Regions from separate parts of the Homo sapiens genome. Here region 2 is linked to region 1. The links come from fine-mapping of genetic effects on gene expression. A gene starts in region 1. The other region holds a variant in brackets. All regions are shown on one strand. Distances are between the middles of the regions. Region 1 holds the start of RTN4RL1-AS1 (RTN4RL1 antisense RNA 1). Region 2 overlaps RTN4RL1 (reticulon 4 receptor like 1).

What was found.
Region 2: its variant is fine-mapped to the expression of RTN4RL1-AS1 in liver (GTEx, PIP above 0.99).

What each region holds. Positions count from the first base shown.
Region 1 is chr17:2,016,601-2,019,100 of GRCh38, forward strand. RTN4RL1-AS1 (RTN4RL1 antisense RNA 1) reads left to right here and starts at 1,116. Exons shown (of 2, transcript NR_135642.1): 1 at 1,116-1,507. The region is part of intron 1 of RTN4RL1 (reticulon 4 receptor like 1); the gene reads right to left. All of the region lies in intron 1 of LOC105371486 (a long non-coding RNA gene), which reads right to left. RefSeq lists an enhancer at 1,713-1,822.
Region 2 is chr17:1,994,500-1,996,999 of GRCh38, forward strand. The region is part of intron 1 of RTN4RL1 (reticulon 4 receptor like 1); the gene reads right to left. Among named protein-coding and RNA genes, the nearest start is that of RTN4RL1-AS1, 22 kb to the right of the region's middle. The variant C/A (reference allele first, on the strand shown) is at 1,007.

The DNA.
Region 1 (2,500 bases):
GGTTGCATACAGGGCTGCGGTGAGAGACGGAGTCTGGCAGCGTGTGATGAGAGACAGAGAGACGCAGCGTGTGGCATGCGGCACATGCCAGCGACAGGCGGCAGCAGGCGGGCAGGCGGGAGGCCGGGCTGCAGCGCCAGAGCATAGCCATTGTCCCCAGCGTCCGGCCTGCCCAGGTGCCCCTCACTGGCCATCAAGTGACCTCCCTCGGCCCTGCCTCCCCTGAGGCTGGCCAGCTGTAGACCCCAGGCCCACCTCCACACGTGCTCCTTCCTTCTCCCAGCTTGCTCAGACAAGCCCATGAATAGAACATTAAAGGCAAAACCTTCTAAAAGGAAAAGCAGCTCCCTGGTAGGAGTCACCCCACTAAATGTCAAATGCAGAGCAAGGCTTCTTGCCTTGTGCGCTTCTCACTCATGGAGTCACCTTAGCCTCCATATCCCCATCATCCTATCGCCGTATAAATAAATCATGGTCAGAAGAATGCCAATTTCCCCCCAGGGCCTCATGAATCTCTCAACATAAGCATATGTAAAGGCCCCCTTCACTGCGTGCTGGTCCTGGTGCCCAGAAAGAGATAGCAAATCCTGTGGGGATGATTTTGGAGGCAGAAGCAAACTTTCTACCACCTCAGTGGGCTGAAAGTTGGGAGCCCAGCTTTTGTCCTGATTTGGGAAAGACCCTTGCTCACGTAGTTGTCACCATGATGCCACTACCCTCTGGAATCAACTCAGTGAGCTGCCAAGTGGCCCATCGCTGGGGGCTGCAGTGGTCTGTCCCCTGGCAGACATGTCACGAGTCGTGCCCACCCACCCCCTGTGAGGGCGAGCCACACACCCACTCAGCAAGTGTTGTTCCTGACATGTGGCACACACAGCGCTGGCCTGCCCACTCCTGGGAGCCCCTGCCCCCACTGACTGGCTCACCATCGTGCCACGGCACCGAGCCCTGCCAGTGGACCAATGGTGTGGGTGCCAGCAGAGGCTCTGGTGCACTAGGGTGTCCTGCTCTGCAACAGTGACCTCTGCCACACACACTACAGGGAGCCTGTTGCATGCTTTGCCAGGTGTGTTTCTGTACATACACACACACACACACACACACACGCACACACACTATGGTACCAACTCTTTTGCTGTGCCAGCACAGAGGTCTCCAGAGCGACTCTCCTGAATCAGATAGCAGGGGCTGTTTGCAGTTTCGTTTCCACGCTTCGCTGACTGGTTAGACAGTGATCACAGGTTCGGAAGCACGAGCCTCACCACAGCGGAGGAGGCCTCCACTCTGAAGCGGGATTCCACGCTCCTGCACCCTAAGATCAGCTAGACTCTCTGCCTTGTTTCATCTTCTTTCTTTTCCTAAAGAATCACGGGGAGAACTGACCTCTCTGGGACTCAACCGTGGCTGGAAGGGGACAGGAGAAGCCCTTTCTGGAGGACAGCTGAGCCCTGCAGCTGCCATCCTGCCTGGCAGGCTAGGGCTGGGCTGCGGGAAGGCCCCCCAGGAGGTAGGGAGCACTACAAGGCAAGAGGGGCAGGTATAGGTGGTGGAGCCAGTGTGTTCCGGGGCTGTGCTAGCAAGTCCATCAGGTCACCCTGGAGGGAAGCCAGGGAGAGCAAACCATGGGGAGGGCTGAGATCCCAAGCAGAGCACAGCCCCCCAATAATCCATGGCCCTGGGCCCTCCTCAGGGGCGTGAAAGCAGGCAGGAGGGTTCCTGGCCCACTGTCCCATCTCTGTCCCCAAGGAAGAAACCAGGGCAGGAGACAGAGGTGAGGACTGTGTCTTCCAGACACCGGGGGAGAGGGAGTAGGAGAGGACATATGAGACAGCAGCTCAGGCCCCAGGAGTCCCAGATCCCAGCCAGAGAGGCTCCTGAGGAACCGCAGAGGGGAGTGCATAGGAACCACCAGCAAGCTCTGCGAGAAGCCAGAAATGAATCAGCAGCGCCCAGCGCCCCACAAAACAAATGTCAGAGAAATCAAGACAGATGGGCACGTGAGACAGTGGAGCACAGAGGTCCAGAGGGCAAGGGAGACGGTGGGCTTGACAGACAGAGCGGGGGCTGCATCCTGACTCAGCAGTGCGCCGGCTGGGTGGCCCAGGGAAAGGGACTCCAGCTAGCTATGCCTCAGTTTCCTCATCTGACACGGAGGAATGAGCACAGACGGATCCTGCAGGGTGGGGGTGGAGGTGGCATGAGATAAGGCGTGGAGCACACTCAGTGAGGCTGTAACAAGTGCTCAGTAAACACAAGCGGCTATTGGCAGCATGTGGACAGTGACGGGCAGGTGGGGAAGAGCAGGTTATTGCCTGCTGCCTGTTTCCAGCTAGCATCCATGTCTCCTCCCAGCAGGCTTGGCTGGGCATGCTCTGTGAAGCCCGAGGTGGCTGGGACTCATTCTAGTGATGGACACCAAGTCAGCGGGCTCCTCTCTCCAGTTCCTCGACATCCCTGGAGGCCCCTCTGCTCCTGCAGCCCTAGCCTTGGAGCTGATGGT
Region 2 (2,500 bases), 22 kb before region 1:
CAAGGGGCCTGCTCCATCCCCTTCCCACCAGCTTGCGAGCTTATCAAACCCACAATTTGGGAGAAGGTCCTGCCACTACCTAACTTCACAGAAGGCAGAGGACAATGAGTCTGAGTGAAGATGCTGGAGTCAGCCAGGCCTGGATTCCAATCCCAGCTCCGCCACTGACAGGCCCGGTGACCTCGGTCAACACAAGCAGGCTCTGCTGCCTCCCACCTCCAAGCCTCAGTTTCCTTCTCTAGGAAAGGGGATAATACACGCTTGCGTTGGGGGAAAGGTGGTTAAAAAGGAGGCTTATAAAGATTAAATGACGGCCAGGTGCAGTGGCTCATACCTGCATATAATCCCAGTACTTTGGGAAGCCGAGGTGGGAGGACTGCTTGAAGCCAGGAGTTCAAGACCAACCTGGCCAACATAGTAAGACCCCATCTCTAAAAAAAAAAAAAAATCATGAAATGAGATGACAGAGGCTGTCAACAGATGGCCAGAAATACTCCCAAGGCCCTGTGTCTGGAGCATGTGGTTCCCCTGTGCTTACAGGGGCCCTGGGACCATGCTCAGAGCCCACAGTGATGGAATGAGCCTCTCAGGCCCCAGCAGCCCACTGAGCTCTCACTGCAAAAGGTAGGCATGGGGCCGAGTGCAGGGGCTCACACCTGTAATCCCAGCACTTTGGGAGGCCAAGGGAGGCCAAGGCGGGTGGATCACCTGAGGACAGGAGTTTGAGACCGGCCTGGCCAACATGGTGAAACACCGTCTCTACTAAAAATACAAAAATTAGCCGGGCATGGTGGTAGGTGCCTGTAACCCCAGCTACTCGGGAAGCTGAGGCAGGAAAATCACTTAAACTCGGGAGGCGGAGGTTGCAGTGAGCCGAGATTGCGCCATTGCACTACAGCCTGGGTGACAAGAGTGAAACTCTGTCTCAAAAAAAAAAAAAAAAAAAAGATAGGCATGGCAGGGGAACCTCTACAGCCAGGAGGGCCTAAGCTTGGCTCTGGAAAGA[C/A]CTTTGTCCTTTGCTCACTCTCCTCGTCCTTACAGGCTCATACCCCAGATGAGGGAGCTGACTCTCACTGTCGCCGGAAGTCCCACCTGCCAGAAGGCGTAGAACAACATGGTTCTGCCTGGCACTGCGTGCTGAAGAAATACCCCTGGATCATTATCATCCCCCTCAGATGGCTCGCTGCAAGATCTACCATCAAAGGTAAACAAGTCCTTATCTTCTTGCTAATTGGTTCGAATCGATTGACTTTATAAGTGGGTCTAATGTGCAACTGGTGAGAGATGGCCTATGTGCCGAGCAACCCATGCACTTAACTAGCTGTCGCTCAAGCACGGAACAAGGCATATTAACCCAAATTTCTCAGACCGCCTTCTCCTGAGAGGCTGCAGAGCCAGCGTCTCCCCTGTTGGGCTCATATTTGCTGGGTCAACAGGCCCGCTTAGAGGCACCTGGATGCTGTTAGGCGGGTGGCGATAACACTGGTGTAGGTTCCTTGGCGAGGTGAGGGCGTGCTGAGCCTGTGACAAGCATCCCTGGGCCCTGCCCTGCCCTGGCTCAGGCTGCCTGGCAGGAGAAGGGACTGAATCCCAAGTGTTGGCAGGGGAGGAGCAGGAAGGCAATTTTCCCGGTACTCTCATCATCTGCCTTCCATGTGCCTTTTGATGTGTTTCCTTACTCGGCTTTCTCCCAGGAAAGCTTGAATCTGTCTCATTGAACCCATCTCTGAGGCCAGGTCACTGCTGCTTTCCAGGTGAGAGCTGATGTTCAGTCTTTTATCACTGCCAGTGTCTGAAATAGTCCAGAAACTGGTAAAGACAACAGACACCAGGAGATGACCTAAAAATCTTGGGCAGAGTACGGGTGAACAGCAGCTCTCCCCACCTCCCCTCCCCCCCGGCCCAAGGTCCCCCTGCAGAGGGCTGGCTGCTGCCCTCCCCCTGAGAAGCGGCCAGCTACCCCCAACTTTTTTCTGCTCTATTAATAAACCTCAGCTGAGATCCTTGTGACCCCCCTCTTCCGGATGTGATCCTCGCTGCCTTGCCTTATCAGCCTTGCTTTTCACAAGCTCTTAAATTCATGAGAAAAGGGAAAAAGTGAAATCAGATAGAAATGCAGGTCTGTTTGCTGTTTTCTCCAATGAAATGGTTCTGGGTAAACAGCAGACGCCTTTGATGAAATCCCAGCAGGCTTAAACAATAAAGCTGGTTACAAACTCAATCTGGCGGAGATATCAGATCTGAAATTGTTTCAAAAAACATGTCAACATTTTCTAATGCTCCTAAAAAAAACCTTCCTGGGCTGCCCACTGTGGAGTCTGGGTCTCGGAGACAGGACGGGGGCCACCCCAGCCTCTGCCCAGGCCAGCTGGGACTCTGTGCACAAAGAACCCAGGAGCAGGCTATTCCTGGTTGCTGGGGGCCCTGCCAGCTGCAGATGTGTAAATGGCCACTTCAGTCATAACCCAAGCCAGGCAGGGGACCAGCCACCCTTGTGTAC